Regions from separate parts of the Homo sapiens genome. Here region 2 is linked to region 1. Evidence: fine-mapped expression QTL. Tissue or cell type: thyroid. Region 1 holds a variant in brackets; the other region holds the start of a gene. All regions are shown on one strand. Distances are between the middles of the regions.

Evidence for each region. PIP is the estimated chance that this variant, and not a neighbour inherited with it, causes the effect.
Region 2: CACNA2D4 starts here. The variant in region 1 is fine-mapped to the expression of CACNA2D4 in thyroid (GTEx, PIP above 0.99). The same link has a PIP of 0.9 or more in whole blood.

Annotation. Positions count from the first base shown.
Region 1 is chr12:1,794,029-1,802,129 of GRCh38, reverse strand. CACNA2D4 (calcium voltage-gated channel auxiliary subunit alpha2delta 4) reads left to right here. Exons shown (of 38, transcript NM_172364.5): 30 at 486-556; 31 at 1,012-1,087; 32 at 1,692-1,744; 33 at 2,078-2,130; 34 at 2,435-2,455; 35 at 4,595-4,712; 36 at 6,350-6,462; 37 at 6,749-6,831. It overlaps LOC105369602 (a long non-coding RNA gene), which reads right to left and starts at 1,691. Exons shown (of 4, transcript XR_931549.3): 1 at 1,207-1,691. RefSeq lists enhancers at 4,094-4,998, 4,999-5,904, 6,016-6,583 and silencers at 4,926-5,155, 5,256-5,385, 5,726-6,055. The variant G/A (reference allele first, on the strand shown) is at 4,532.
Region 2 is chr12:1,914,736-1,922,836 of GRCh38, reverse strand. It overlaps CACNA2D4 (calcium voltage-gated channel auxiliary subunit alpha2delta 4), which reads left to right and starts at 4,185. Exons shown (of 38, transcript NM_172364.5): 1 at 4,185-4,590; 2 at 7,902-7,983. The coding sequence starts at 4,364. RefSeq lists an enhancer at 5,536-6,112.

The DNA.
Region 1 (8,101 bases):
CACCAGCGTGCATGAGACAGGCGCTGCTTCTGACCTTGACCTGCAGAAACGTGTTTTATATCTGACCCAACACACACACACACACACACACACACACACACACACACACACACAGCATATAAAACAAATCCAGTTTCATAAAACATTCTTTAACCTTGCTGCAAGTGATTCACACAGAATTGTTCCAAGGAATTCTGTACCATTAAAAAAATCACATTGCAGCCTCTACGTTGGTCTCATAGTCAGCTAGCGGGTGACTCCTTCCAGTTGAGGAAGCACCAGGCTGGACGGTGAGGAGGGAGCCAGGACCGGACAGGGGCGTGGGTGGAAGGGTTCAGCTGGATTATGCTGAGAGGCAGTCAGAGGGAAAGCCCAACTGGCACCAAAAGCCTCGACCTGAGCTGAATAAATAGTGCTGGACTCGGAAGGCTCCATCCTGCTCCATCTCTCTCCCTCCCTCTCTCTCTGCTGTCCCTCTCTCACAGACGGGAAGATTTCTGGGGGAGGTGGATGGTGCTGTCCTGACCCAGCTGCTCAGCATGGGGGTGTTCAGCCAGTAAGTGGGGCACACTCCTCCCCAGTCCAAATAGACACAGCAAACCGAGAGCTGACGCTAAGTGGTCCTGGCGGATCTCAGGATCCTGACCTCCAAAACCCACAGTGGGTGCCCCCAAAGAGCTGCAAAAGCAACCTTTATGGAGCCAGGGCGTCAGCATGATGTGGGGAGGGCGTAAGGGCATGTGGGCATCCCTGGGAGGGGCTCCGCAGCTCAGACCCTAGAGGGAAAACCGTCCAACTCCGAGGGCAAAAGCCATTTGCTCTTCATTGTCTTTAAACCATTCCAAGTGCAGAAATGTAATTTTCAGCATGAGCTGTATTCTGATCTGCTGTCCTAGCTCAGGCGCCCTTGGGAATTGCGGTAAACGGATGCTCTGCTAGTAAAGCCTCCTGAGGCAGGGGCAGGGGGTGGGGGTGGCTTTGGACTCATCACAGCCCGCTTCTGATTTTCAGAGTGACTATGTATGACTATCAGGCCATGTGCAAACCCTCGAGTCACCACCACAGTGCAGCCCAGCCCCTGGTCAGCGTGAGTGTCACCCAGCCCTTCCCTCTGCCAGCCAGCCAGCCAGTCCTCTGCCCTGTCCTGGAATGAGGTCACTGGTCCCTGTTCTCACCCACCTTGGGTGTCTGGCCCCAGGGCCCTACCTTGACCATCTCCATCTTCTGCTCAGAGCCACTGCTCTCAGTCCCACTCCCAGGCAGGCCTCTGGGTCTGGCTTTGGGGCTTCAGAGGGACTGCTCTGGTAGTTGTGACACAACAGTGCCTCTGGCGGAGACAGAGAGAGCAGCCTGCCCCAGCCTCAGCCCCTGACACTGCCGCTTGATCACCAGGGATCCTCAGCAGTGCAGCACCAGGATGAGGGCTTGACTCGTCTCCTGGAGGGGCATGTCCAACCCCACCCGAGATGTCTGACCTGCAATAGGCATTTCCCAGCTAGCTCAGCTCTGCAGGGCAGGTGGGAGGTGGGGGGATGGGGGGTGCTGGGCTGCTGGCCTGTGCTCTGCTGCCCCTGCTCCCAGTGGCAGGGCAGCCCACTCTCTGGTCTCTCTGAGGGTGGTGCTGGTGGTGGGGGGGGGGCACCCTCACCCTTGGACCTAGGTGCGAGCGGTGTGCACTCTCTCCTTCCCAGCCAATTTCTGCCTTCTTGACGGCGACCAGGTGGCTGCTGCAGGAGCTGGTGCTGTGAGTGGGGGTAGACACGGGGCTGGTGGAGGGCTGCATGCGAGGGTGGCTTAGGAGGGTGTCCTTGAGCAGGAGGCTGCAAGGTCTCCAGGACAACCCACTTGCTACCAGACCCCGGGGAAGGAGGGCACAATCCCTGGGCATGGACGCCACCTCTTCCCTGCATGCTGCCCCTGGGAGGGACCTCATTGCTCAACCAGAGCCCTCAAGCAGGGAAGAGGGTGTCCTGGAGGAGAGGGGATGGGCCGGGGGCTGTCAGGGATACTCCAGCTCCTTGGGAACCCAAGTCGGGAGGGCTCAGAGGTCTCCGAGATTCAGTCCTGTGTCTGACAGGTTCCTGCTGGAGTGGAGTGTCTGGGGCTCCTGGTACGACAGAGGGGCCGAGGGTGAGTGCACGGAGCTGCAGGGCCATGTGCTGAAGAGCAGTGGCATTTTGGTCCACTAACGTGAGACCATTCCCTGTGGGGTGGGTGACAGTGGGGATAGGTGACCCTGAAGCATCGTTGTTCACATCTCACCCTGCGTGGCCTTCTCTCATCACATCCCTCACTCCTGGCTCTGTGTGTGACATCATCTTGGGACACCGCCACTCCATGTGCCATCATCACCACCCCATGACATCCTGCCCTCATGTGCCACCATGTTTTCCTGTGCCGTGTCCACCCTGTGCTGGGCTTATGTTCCGGCCAGCCAAAAGTGTCTTCCATCACTGTAAGTAGCCCAGCTGAGGCCATCCCTGCTGGCGGTGGGTTGGGGACGCAGCAGGAGCTACAAAGAACCCACCCTCCATGACCTGTCCCAGGAATGACCCCAAGCAGGGCTGAGCTCTCCTGGTTTAAAGTACCATTCCTGGGGGTTGGGGGACTGGGGAGTCTAGCCCAGTTCTCATCCCACATGAGGACGGTCAGGCCCCAGGGAAAATGAGAAACTCCAGCCTCCCCTTGGGTGAGAACACGTAAGATTCCAAGAGGAAGCCGGTGGTGTGGCCGGGTGGCCATGAGCCAGTATGAGTGAGCAACCTCCAGCCCACCCCTTGGAGAAGCAAACAGCGGCACCCCAGCCCTCAGCGGGACTCCGGGTTCCAGGGGCCCCAGGAAGCTCTCAGGATGATTCCCCTGCGGGACCCTGTGTCTGAGGACAGAGTCCCCCAGAGGCAGCAACCATGAGAGGCCCCAACACAAAGCCCGGTGGCTGTGGCCACACGTGCAGGGCGGCAATGAGCCTGGCCTTTCAAAGCACTCACTGCCCGGGCGCCTGGGCCCTCCATGACTGCAGGAGGCCATCTTGCCTCAGCGGGCTCTGCTCAGTTCCTCCGTGTTCCTAGAACCTTTGCCATGGGGTTCCAGAACTTCCCACCACCTGGGCTGTCCCCAGCTTATCCCATCTCTTCATCTCCACTGTGGTCCTCTCTCTGGCTTGCTCTTCGTTCTCTTCTGCTGGCCTTGGCTTGGGGCTTCCTCTGCCCCTGGGCTCAGGGCAGTTCGGGCTGTGTCTCCAGACTCCTTCTGGACTCACATCCGCGATCGGGTGGGGCTGCTCTGGGGTGTTCACAGTCACTAGGTGTCAGTGACAGGACACTGTCCCCTCTGTCTCTGTCAGCAGCTGCATCTTGCAAAAGTTGAAGATGATCCCCCTCAATCTGCCTGCTCAGAATTTCTCTTCTCTGGGGTACCTGTCCCCTGGAGCTCCTCCCCCTGGTCTGGCCTACACAGATGTCAGTGTCCCCAGTGAAGGCGCACTGGACTTGGAGTCCCAGGCCGGGGCGTAGGTGCTGCAGCCCCTTCCACTGCGTGACCCTGGGGACGCCACTCAACCCTGCCATTGTCAGGCAGGCTTCTGTGCCCAGCCCTGGGGACAAAACTCACAGCCCTGGCCGCTGTGGGCTTGCTCCTCTCGGTGAGAGTTTTCTGCACGCCAGCTAGTGTCCCCTCTGGGTTTCCAGCTCTGGCTGGGAGCTTCTGGATTTGGAAGCTGGGGAGACCCATGCTCTCCTGTAGGACTCTGCATGAGCCTGGGAAGGTAGCTCACACCTGTGCTCCCTGCCTCTAGGTCTATCCCTGGGGGCCACAGCCAGGCCCTGAGAACAGAAGGGCCATGCAGACAGCCTGTGTGGCAGGGCCCTGCTCTGCCATGTGCCCACCTCAGGAGGCTCCGGGAGGGAACGGACTCGGGTCCTGCAGAGCGGGGCTGAGGCACTCGCCTCCACCTTTGGTTGAGTCCACTGTCCTTGTCCCAGGGAGCTAAGGCAAATCGCGCAGCCCCCGAGGAGTCCCGCACCGGGTGGCTGTGGCTTCTGGGCTTCCGCAGCCCCAGGCCTGGAGCCCACCTGCCCGGCTGCCCCCACCGCAGGCGCTCAGGCTCAATGGGTGGAGTGTGGGCCTGGCTGTGCGGGAGAGCAGGGCAGGATTGCCCAGGAACTGCACTGCGTCTGTCCACAGTGAAGGGAGGGGTGGTGGGCCTAAGTACCCCCAAGCCACCCCTTGGTGCCCCTACTGCCTCTGCTCCCCGCTCAGACCCTCCCCCGGGATCTGAGTGCTGGAAGGGGCCCTGGAGATGGTGCACTGCCCCCAGCTCAGTGAGGGCCAGGCTCCCCAGAGGAAGCGCTTTCCCTCCACCGAGGCTCAGGGCCCCTGCGGCGCTCCCCGTGCCAAGCCACCCTCTCCAGAGACTCCGGGTGTCTTCCCTCCCCTCACCCCCCGCCCGGCTCCTCCCACGCGTGTCCTGAGAACTGCCTGAGGAGGGACCCTCTGCAAATGCACTGGGGTGAACTCTGGCCCTGGGAGTGCC[G/A]AGGCGAGGTCACCGCAGGCCAGAGGCCCCTTCGGTGGCGTGATGTCCTTTCTCCGCCCGCAGCCCACAAACACAAGAAGCAGGACCCGCTGCAGCCCTGCGACACGGAGTACCCCGTGTTCGTGTACCAGCCGGCCATCCGGGAGGCCAACGGGATCGTGGAGTGCGGGCCCTGCCAGAAGTAAGACCGCAGGGCGGCGCCGCCCGTCCCGCCACACTCCTCCCGCCCTCGGCAAGGCGGAAGTGCGGGCAGGGCCCCGGAACCCCCGGGAAACGGCTCCACAGCCGGGAGGAGGGGATGCGTCTAAGTGCAGAGCCCACGCTCCCGGGGTCTTCCCCCGCCGTCCTCAGTGGAGGAGACACGCAGGAGGCGGACGGTCTGAGGCGGGCAGGACGGCTGGGGACCGGGACAGCCGGGATGGGGAGAGGTGGTCCCGAGGCCTGACCCTGTGTGTCGAGCCCACCCCGCCGAGGCCGCAGCCGTGACCCCACGGCGTCTCTGGGCGAGTGGGCCCTTCGGCGGGTCTCCCCCAGCCCTGCTCAGGCGGTGCCCAGGGCGGTGCCAGTGCCCGCGCCTGAGCTGCGTGGGGAGAACTTGGAAGGCAGAGGGAGTGTGAGAAGAGAAGGCCGGAAGTGTGCGATGTCCTCGGGTCGCTGGGAGCCCCGCGGGCAGCCTCTGTCAGGCTTCCTGCTGTGTGGAAGCCGCTAGTTATAACCCGCCCTGGCCCCGGGGAGGCAGGGAGGCCGCGCGGAAGGGTCTCTCCTGCTGACCCCCCGCACCCAAGCCCGGGAGGACCCCCACGCTGGGAATGCGGCGGCCTCCTCGAGGGTCGCCTCAGCCAGACGTGCCGCTCGCCAGGCGGTCCCTAGACCCCCGGGCCCGTGGCACACCATTTAACAGTGCGGCACCTGCGGCGCTGGCATCGGGGCTCCCTTCTCCCCCACTCCCTGCGCGTCGTGCTGCGCGGGTTTCACCCCGGGTTCTGTGCAGCGTTGAGGGCTGGGGTTAGCGTTCCCTGTGCACTTGTCGCAAAGGCTCGGTGCGAGGATAGAGCCAGCGGGCTCCGGAGTGAAGCGAGGGCTTCAGAGTAGACACTCCTGAATTGAAAACTGGCTCTGCGCTCCCCCGCTTATGACCGTGGGCAAGTGACTTCGCCTCCTCTAGTCTCCATTCTCTCATCTGCAAAATGGGCACAACACCAGCCTCATACAGAGCCGTGAAGGCTGAGAGTATACACGGCTGTGGTGTGCACGTTGGGTGTGTGAGACCGCCCATCCCAGGGGAGGCGCTCGGTAGGCGGCCGCTGGGACTGCTGGGAAGGCCGTGGGCCTGGCGGGCGGGCTCCGCCCCACTCCGCGCCACTCCTCGCAGGGCGGCCTCGCCGAGCGCGGGGCCACTGCGCCACCTGGTGGCCAAGCTCCAGCGCTGCCGCTTCGCCCGGGCCTGCCCCCGCCACCCTCACCCAGAGCAAGTGTTGCCTCGCCCGCCCATTTGCTCCGGACGGTCTTGATTTACGCCTGTCGTCCCTGCATATATTAATAGCAACTCTGCACTCTCCAAAGCGGCCCAGTTTGGACTTCCTCACTGTCTCCAGTCTGCTAGGAAAGGAAATGCAGCAGCAAAGGCTTGTGAGCAAAGCCAGTAGGACTGAGCCATCTGCCAGGCCCGTTCCCTTAGCTGCCCCGACCCGCCCTGCCTCATGGTTCCGGGCTTCCCTGCCACCCTAACTCCACACTAAAGTCTCCAGAAGTTCCTTCCCTAGAAGCCCTTCTCGTGGTCGCCACGGAGCCATCCTCGACTCCCTTTCTTTGCTGCAGGGTATTTGTGGTGCAGCAGATTCCCAACAGTAACCTCCTCCTCCTGGTGACAGACCCCACCTGTGACTGCAGCATCTTCCCACCAGTGCTGCAGGAGGCGACAGAAGTCAAATATATCCTGCAATGCTCGGGGATGTGTGCGGTGGGGGCGGGGGCTGTAGGAGGTGTCTGTAGGGCTCAGATTTTGAGCAGCGGGGCCAGCCTCCTTCACCGCCCGTGTCCTCCACAGGGCTCCGTTATTTGTTCTCTAACCCTTCCCTGGGCCCCGGTGCTGCCTCCTGACCCTAAAGCTGCTTGCAGGGCAACTGGTGGCACCAGAGCAGGTTCTTCCAGACCTTTTTCCAGTCTGCAGAATGGGCTCCGGTCCTGAGATATTGACCTTAACAGTGGCTTCTGCACATAATGCCTCTGTCAAATGTGACCGGATGCGCTCCCAGAAGCTCCGCCGGCGACCAGACTCCTGCCACGCCTTCCATCCAGAGGTGCGGGTTGAGGCGGATCGAGGGTGGGCTGGATTTTCATCCCCAAACCCTCTGTGCCTGGGTCTGTGCCCCTGCAGACAGGAGCATATAGGGATGCCAATGAACACACCTGTGCCTGTGCTTCTCGGGGGAAACATTCGCGTTTATGCCCTGTGACACTGTGATATAATAAGAAACAGATCTTTATTTAGTCTTTGTCCTGATTCCTGGCAAGCTCCTAAAACGCTTGTTATTTCCTGATTAGGGTGATAGGTGCATCTTTTGTTATAGTGTTTGGTCTTAGTCCCTGGTTCCTTCACAGGTGCCTCTAAGACCCTTGGAATGATAGAGGTATCTTTGTATGCTAATTAGATGACTGGTGGCTGGGGGCCCTAGACAGGATGAGAGCTGGCCACAGGAAACACCAAGTTAGGATTAGAGGGTTGGGACTTTTGGCTCCAAGCCCCTGGCTTCTGGGAAAGGAAGGGGGCTGGAGACTGAGTTGATCACCAGTGGCCAAAGATTTAATCAATGATCATAATGAGGCCTCCATAAAATCCCCGAGCCACTGTGTTTGGAGAGTGTCCGAATTGGTGAAAGGGTGTGGGAGCTCTGCGTACCCCGTGCCTTGGCCTACGTGTCTCTTCCACTCAGCCGCCTGACCTGCGTCCTTTATAATAAACGGGTCATGGTGAGGGAAGCACCTTCCTGAGTTGAGTGAGCCACGCTAACAACTCACGGAGCCTGAGACAGGCTCATGGGAACCCTAGATTTACAGCCAGTCTGTCAGAAGGACAGGAGACCTGGGGCTTGCGATTGGCATCTGAAGTGACGGCCACCTTGTGGGACCGAGCCCTGTAACTTGCGAGCTCTAATGCTAACTCTCAATAGTGTCAGACTTGAATTGAGTTTCAGGACAGACACCCAGTTGGTGTCCAGAGAGTGGGGTGGGAAAAACCCTTCACATTTGTTGAAGTGCTGGTGTGAAAGCACAGCAGAGCCCCTGTGTCATTAAAATACGAAGTCAACCAGGATCCCAAGGTGCTTTAACGAAGAGCCACGCTTCCTAGGGCTTGGGCCCTAGGTGAATTAGAATGCAGTTTTCCCATCTTGTCCTCATTCCCGCTACACTTAGTTCCGAATGATCGAGCAATGTGAGGGGGCCGTCACGTGGATAATAGTCATAGTGGCTGGTACGGATCCAGAACCCAGACCCAGGTGTCAGGCCCTGAGCCGGGTGCTTCATACAGTCTGGTCTGCTGGGACCAGAAACCCCCATCAGAGATGCTCC
Region 2 (8,101 bases), 120 kb before region 1:
ATGGAGAAGTAATTCACATGCCGTAAAATTCTCCATGTTAAAGTTTGCAGCTCGGTGCTTGACAGGCTATTCACAAAGCCGTGCGTCACTGCCCACCACTCTCTCATTCAAGGACACTTTCATCATAAAAGGTGGCGTTGAAGACCTTGAGCCGGACGCCTCCTGCTGGCCCCTCCGAGTGCTCTCCCTGCCCTGGGGGGCTGTCCTGGGGGGGGAGCGAGGGCACGCGGATAAGTCCCTAAGGTTCCCCGGGTGGAGGCACCAGCAGGAGAGCGGGGGAGGCAGAGGGTGAGTGGGTGTCCACGGCCCCAGCCCTCCCACGGGACTGCTGTGGCTGGCCGCATCCCTTGCCTGGCGGCCACAGTCCCCCCCATACAGCCTGTTCTCTCCAGGGTACAGTGGCTTTCCCGTCCCCGTCCCCGTCCCCCTCCCCGAGGCTTAGGGGCTAGCTCCCGCGGTTTCCAGCCCTGGCCACTGCAGTGTCCCTGCAGGACTCCGTCCACACCTCTGTAAATAGCCTCTCTGTTAAACTCGTCTCAAGCTGCCCGATCCAGGGGTACCAGCTCTTCCTGCAGGAAACCCGACGCCAGACACTGATGGAAATGAGAGGGCCGGCCACGCAGGGGGAAGCAGGCAGACACAGCCGCGGCGCGGACTGCAAGCTCGGGGGTCAGCCGCACCGATGGGGGGCGCGCCTGAGGCACCCAAGGAGCAGCGGGAGCCCGCGCCCAGAGAGGCGCGGTCAGGAGAAGCCAGCTCCAGCCAGGTGGGGCCTCGTGGCTGTGAATTTGGTGGCATTCATCAGCTTCTTAAAATTTGTAATTTGGAATGATTTTTAAAATCAAGCCAGCTCCAGCCAGGTGGGGCCTCGTGGCTGTGAATTTGGTGGCATTCATCAGCTTCTTAAAATTTGTAATTTGGAATGATTTTTAAAATCAAGCCAGCTCCAGCCAGGTGGGGCCTCGTGGCTGTGAATTTGGTGGCATTCATCAGCTTCTTAAAATTTGTAATTTGGAATGATTTTTAAAATCAAGCCAGCTCCAGCCAGGTGGGGCCTCGTGGCTGTGAATTTGGTGGCATTCATCAGCTTCTTAAAATTTGTAATTTGGAATGATTTTTAAAATCAAGCCAGCTCCAGCCAGGTGGGGCCTCGTGGCTGTGAATTTGGTGGCATTCATCAGCTTCTTAAAATTTGTAATTTGGAATGATTTTTAAAATCAAGCCAGCTCCAGCCAGGTGGGGCCTCGTGGCTGTGAATTTGGTGGCATTCATCAGCTTCTTAAAATTTGTAATTTGGAATGATTTTTAAAATCAAGCCAGCTCCAGCCAGGTAGGGCCTCGTGGCTGTGGTCAAAACTGTGGCTTTTCCTCTAAGGGAGATGGGCAGCCCTGGGGGCTTCGGAGCAGAGGGAGGGAGCCACAGGGTCTGACTTACGTTTGAAAAGAGCCTTCGGTTGCTGCATTAAGAATAGATGATGAGAGGCAGGGTGGGGAGGCCCGGTACCAGACAGGGGCCCGCAGGAAACAGGTGGGAAAGCTGGTTTCCAAAGGACTCCTTGGAAAGGGGTGGATGTAGGGGACGCAGGATGCAGCCCAGCTGTACCCCCTCCTCCACCAGTCAGGGAAGGAAGCCGTCGCTGGAGCCTGAAGGGGAAGTGGGCAGAGGCAGCCGCCTGGAGGCCGGCGGTGGCCTTGGGCTGAGAAGGCCTGGTTTTGAGGCTTCCTAAGTATGTCTAAGGGGCGCACAGGACACAGGCCGCCAGTGTGTCTGCGAAGGACGGAGCTTTCCAAGCCGCTGTCACGCTTGACACAGTAGAGGGAGGCGAAGGCTTTCCGGACAGGGTGCTGGAACCCCGTGGGGGCAGTGGGAGCTTGTATAATGTGGGAGTGGTTACCCATAAAAGAAAAATAATGCAAATCCCAGGTACAAACATAAAAATAAAAGTGAATATTTATTATCGAAAGCAGGATCTCGAGAGATATTTGCACACCCGTGTTGACGGCAGCATATTTCACAGTAGCCAAAAGGAGGACACCACCCCAGGGTCCATCGATAGAGGAACGGATGCACAAAATGAGGTCTATCCACACAATGAAATATTAACCCATCATTGGTCACCCCCAAAAAGTAAGGAAATTCTGACACACGCGGCACCGTGGGTGAACCTTACCGACATTGTGCTAAGTGAAATGAGCCAGTCATGGAAGGACAACTATGTGATGACTTCCCTTCTGTGAGGTCCCTAGAACCGTCAACATCAGAGATACAGAAAGGAGAGTGGTGGCCGCCAGCGGCTGGGGGAGGAGGGAACGGGAGCTAGTGTTTAATGGGTTCAGAGTTTCAGTTTTACAAGATGAACGAATTATAGAGATAGATGGCGGCGAAGGTGGAGCAACATGATTAATGTATTTAATTACACTAAACCGTACACTTAAAAAGATGATTAAGATGGCACATTTTATGCCACAATAAATATTGGGCCACAATAAAAAAGTTGAAAAAAGGTGAATATTTATTCAGTTTTAAAAATCATTCCAAATTACAAATTTTAAGAAGCTGGTGAATTCCACCAAATTCACAAAACCTAGAGAAGTTACATTCTTTTTATGTATTGACTGCCCAGTGTGCCTCTGTAGTATTTTTTCTAAATGTGTTTGATTTGTAATCCTCAAAACATGTACAAAATTTATGTGAAATTAAGGCATTCATAGGAATCATTTAGATGCCTTTAAAAAATACATTGTATTCAGCCACAAAACTGTGCCACCAGATTACTCTGATACTACAGCACTGACTTATTGATGAATCTGTGTAGGAGTTTTGTCATCAGAACACTTGCTTCTGCAAGCATTTCTCTGCGTTGGTGGCAATTTTGCTTACCATTTTGCTGGAACCACCAGATTTTGTGAAGACACAGTGCACCAGTTACACTAAGAAAATAATCTGATACGGGGACTGCATAAAATCTATGACTTCACCCCCGGAGAACCCATGTGGTACTACTACTGGTTTGGGCTCACAACACAAGAATTTTGATCAATTCTAATTTGTGTAACTCTCATCAGAACACAAAGCAATGTACGGTGTAATTATATTCTTTCAATATCCACTATTTTCCTAACAGGAGAGAACTTCTGTCCTGGCCAGGCCTTGGTGAGAACCAAATCCTCCACCAACGATGTTACCTGTGTGGCTTTTTGTAGATTTTCTGCAGATGAGCTCCTGACTGTTACTTTGCCCTCCCCACCACACATGGCCAGGGTGGGTGTGACAGCGTGCGCTCACATCACGGCCCAGCCTCTCTTGCTGCATCTGCTGGTGGGATGTCCTGTGGGATGAGTGTTCCTGGAAGCCCTGCCTACACTCAGCTGGAGGTAACTTCTCTGTACAAAGAAGTCACTGTGAACCATGTCAGCATATCCCACTAAGCCCAGATTAAGTGTTTCCCCAGCTCACTTTCCTCTTAACTGGATCCCCCAAGTGCCCTCAGCCACCCAAACATCATCCAACTAAGAGTCCCTCAGACGGAAGAGAAGTTGGGATGGAAAGAGACAGACAGTCTCAACCGGTTATGGTTAAACTATCTCAACTTTTGCATATTTTACAAAAACATTTGGCCACAGGAACACATTGCTAGGGCCTCTCCGGGAAAGGGGGGAGTCTGTGGATTCAGGGGTCCTGAAGCTTCATCAGTTGCACAGCAAATGCGTCCCCAGCCCCGCCCACGAGCAGCTGAGATGTGGAGGCGTGGGTCCACTGACTTCACCTATGACCTATGACCTGTCCCAAAGGCACCAGGCCTGGAAACACCAGCCAGAGTCCCAGCTCTGCCCCTGGGACTCCCCGGGCCTCAAGAGCCTCTGCCAAGCAGGGATGAGGACACACCCCCACCTCAGGGTCAACAAGAGATTTGTGGGTCAATCAGAGTACTGTGCAAACTCAGCTGCTGTCCTCTGGCCATAGTCACAGCAAGCCCTTCCTGGGTCCAGAAGGTGGTTCCACAGGAACGGGGCTGCCTCTTTAAAGCAGAGGGGTGCACTATAGCCCTGAGGGAACCAGCTGCAGTTGTGGTAATCTTGGGAGGCAGCTCCCCACCCCCTGCCACCCCCTCCCTGCTGTCAGGAGAGGATTAGAGGAGAGGCCAGCGGATTAAAGGGTTTCATGTTGCCACAGCCTCTCCCCCAGTCCCTGTCTCCGAGGCCTGCTTGCTAGGTGGGGCGACTCTTCTGTGAGCTGCAGCTGTGGGGCAGAGAGAAGCCCTCCCCACCCAGGACTGAGAGGCTGGAGACCCCAGGCTCGCCAAGGCACGGAAGACAAAGGCCTGGGGCGTCCTGGGGTCTGGGAGGAAGGCAGACAGAGCTCATGGTCTGTGGCTGCTCTGCCCTCCTTCCCCTCCCCAACCCCAGGCCCACCATGCCTGCAACTCCCAACTTCCTCGCAAACCCCAGCTCCAGCAGCCGCTGGATTCCCCTCCAGCCAATGCCCGTGGCCTGGGCCTTTGTGCAGAAGACCTCGGCCCTCCTGTGGCTGCTGCTTCTAGGCACCTCCCTGTCCCCTGCGTGGGGACAGGCCAAGATTCCTCTGGAAACGTAAGCATCACGTTCAACCCCACCCCAAAAACCCGGTCACCCTTTCCCACTTTCTTCCCGGGCTGGGCCTCCATCCTCTGCCCACTCCTCCCGCCCCTGCCCTCCCTCTGGGCTTTTCCCCAGTGGCTGCGACTGACCACTCTCTTGCTGTAAAGCCCTTTGCTTCTCCGGCCTCCTCTTTCTCCTCCCAAAAGCTCTGTGAGTTCTGGAGTCCCACCTGCCTCTCCCCAGGAGCCGGATGGCTTTAGGAAGAACTGATCATCAGGGCTGCTGTCTTCCTGGCCTGACAAGCAGCTTCTGGGACACCTGAAGGGCGGGTGCTCCTTCAGGATAATCGCTGAGATGAGGCAGCCTGGAGGAGCCGGGTTATCTCAGCATCGCAGCTCCCCGAAGCATTTGGCAGGAAATGCGTATTTTGACATTCCAAAAAGGGGAAGCAGTTCTGAACCCACAGAACGTCTCATGCGCACAGGAGGTGGCTTGTCCAGGAACTGGGGAAAAAAATGGATTTTGGTGGCCGCAGTCTTCCCTTTCTACACCTTTCTGCCTCCTTCCAACCTTGATTCTCTAGCCGGCCATTAAGACCGGCTCCAGGAAAGAACCCGGTATCAGTCATGTGCACCTTGGTGTACATGTAAATTACTGTGCAACCTCTCTGGGGTGTCTGTGTTTTAGGCCCTAGCTCAGGTGGTCCTAGGAAGGAAATTTCCAATACATGTGGGTAGCAGAGCCTTCTAGACTGTAGGTGCTACAGACCCCATCCTGTTTACTCCAGCCGCTTGAGCCCAGCACCATAGCCAGGCCACCAACAGAGCCACCTGCCAACTGCATGTCTTAGCAGGAGTGGGGACAGGGAGCCTAAATGACACACCGTGCCTGTGCTTAGCCTTTGCTGACCAGTGGATTAGGCAGCATCGTTTCCCATCGAGCCGCATAGCTCTCCTTGTTCCCTGCCTGGCACGGAGCTGGGCGCTTCACAAATGACACCGTTAGTTTGCAGAGCCATTCAGTGGGGGCTTATTTTTATCCCTATTTTGCAGCTGAGGAAACAGAGGCCCCGAGAGGTCAGGTGACTTCCCCAAGTTCACAAGGCCAGGAAGTGAAGGTGCTGGGATTTGAACTCCTGTCAGCCTGGACTGCACTTTCACCATTACACCCGCCGCCAGCCCGTAACGCTATCTGTTGCTGCAGGAGATGTTCAGAACAATTTTCATCCCCAGAACACACACCAGCTGATAGGAGAGGGCCAACTCCAGGAGTGGGCTGAGGGCCAAGTCGGGGTGGCTGGAATCCAGGCCTTCAGGGAGGGGGGCCCCAGCGGCCATCTATGCAGAAGCCCTGGGTGCTGCCAGAGACAACAGCCTGCACACAGCCTCATCTGCCTGCCCAGGACTTGGCCCCACCTGTCCTCACTCCCGCCGAACCTCTCTTCTCAGTCTTTCCCTCCAGCCGGGCTTCCACCTCCTCCCAAGTCTGTTTCCACAGGGTTCCCAAAGCCCTCCTCATGCCCAATCCAGGAGACATTCCTGGCCTTGTCACCCCAGACCCTGTTGCTTGGGACACACAAGCCCCCGTCTTCTTTTATCCCAGTCCTTGACTTCCGTGGCACTGCGCTCCGCTGGGCCTGCATGGGCACGGCTTATCTCTGCTGTCCTCAAGTGCTCCTCCTCCTCTGCCTGCCCCGGAGGTGGGGGGTGCTCCCCAGCAGCTGTCGACGCTCAGAGATCTCACGCTGCACACTCTCCTTGAGAGAGCCCTCCTGCCCTCAGAATTTCAATCCCTACCTTTGCATCAATGACTCCCAGCCCTGTCTCTACCTACTAGACACATACCCAGTGCTTATGGGCAGCTTTTCCTAAACATCATGTGAGGTTTTAAATTCAGATTTGTGTCTTTCAAGGTAAAACACAATTGGTGCCTTCTAGAGTTGTGCAGTGCACAACCTTCCCAATGGTACTTGGTAGCTCTACAACGGGAACCTCACATTCAGCAGAGCCCAAGGTACACACATCACTTTTCACCCTCCTCAGCTCATTCCCCCTGCCCTTCCTGATAGTCTTAATTGTATTCAGTAACAACACCATCAGGTCAACAACCCACACTGGAAGCCCGGAAGTCACGTTTTACTCCTCCAAGCTCTTCTGTACTCCCGACCTAGAATCCTCTCCCAGACCCCTTTGCAGGCTAACCTCTACCAAACTTCTAACCTGGAGCTCAGATCTCCCTCCCCAGGGAAGCCTTCCCTTATACCACTACCCCTCCCCAACCTTCATGGGCACCTTCAAACATGTACTATGCTACCCGCATGACAAAGCTGTCCCTGCAAGGGTGGGGACTGTGGGGTGGCTCCAGGCTGCCACATGGTAGGACCTTGATAAACATTGGTTGAGTGATGACTGCTGATCTTGAAAGGATCGCACAGGCAAACCACTTCCGCTCCATCTGGAGAGGCTCAGCCCCAGCCCTGTGTACCTGCCCCCAGGACCCCACCAGCCTGGCCAAGATGGTGGGATTGTGGTGCATTTCTGGGGCATGGGCGAGAGGTCGGGGCTCCCCACTAGGCTGCCTACACAGAGGGTGAGGTGTGGCCTCCTTATGCCCTCCTGGCCTGCCCTGCCCTCAGGCTCAGCAGTGGCAGCTCAGAGCCTTTTCCTGCTGTGCCCTTGCCTCACGCGTTCTCTGAGGTTTCAACAGAGGGTTCGGCAGCCCCCAGTGGCTTTGAGTGGAGTGCACTGGAGGGAACGATTTATTGAGAGGCCACAGCTGTGGCCAGGCAGGTTGTCCTTTGTCCTCAGGGTCCTCCGGCCCTGGCCTGAGGCTGTCCACTGCCTCTCCCCTCCTTCTCTCCTCTCAGTCTGCCACTCTCCAACCAGAGGCCCTGGAAGCTTGGGGTCAAGCTCAGTCCTGGGCTCGTCAGCCCGGCCCCACAACCCTCAGCAGGAGAACCTGCCGAGGACATTCAGCACACAGCAGTGCAGCCGCTGGGTCCTGAGGGTTCTCCGCGTCTCCTGCCCAGGCCATGGCTGTAGCTTTAGGGACAAGGAGGAGGGACAGGTGCTCTTTTGTGTGTTTCTGGGCATATGTCACGTGTGTGTATGCATATGCATGTGTGTGGGGGGTATGTATGTGTGTGTACGTGTGTGTGCATTTCTTATGCATTATGTGTCTGTGTGTTGGAGTATGCATGCATCAGCAGGTGTCTGTGTGTAGACACTGGCTTTCTATGTGTGTGAACCCATATGTCTACGCGTGTGTTTCTGTATTTGTGCGTGTACGTGTGTGTATACGCGTGTCCTTTCATTGCCTGGCAGAGTGAAGCTATGGGCTGACACCTTCGGCGGGGACCTGTATAACACTGTGACCAAATACTCAGGCTCTCTCTTGCTGCAGAAGGTCAGTCACCCCCTTCCAGAGAGCCCACCGGGTGGCAGAGGGCAGTCAGCCATCGAAGCCCCCAAATGCCGGTGCTGTGAGGGGCCTTGGGCATCCCATCAAATCGGTTTATTTCAGA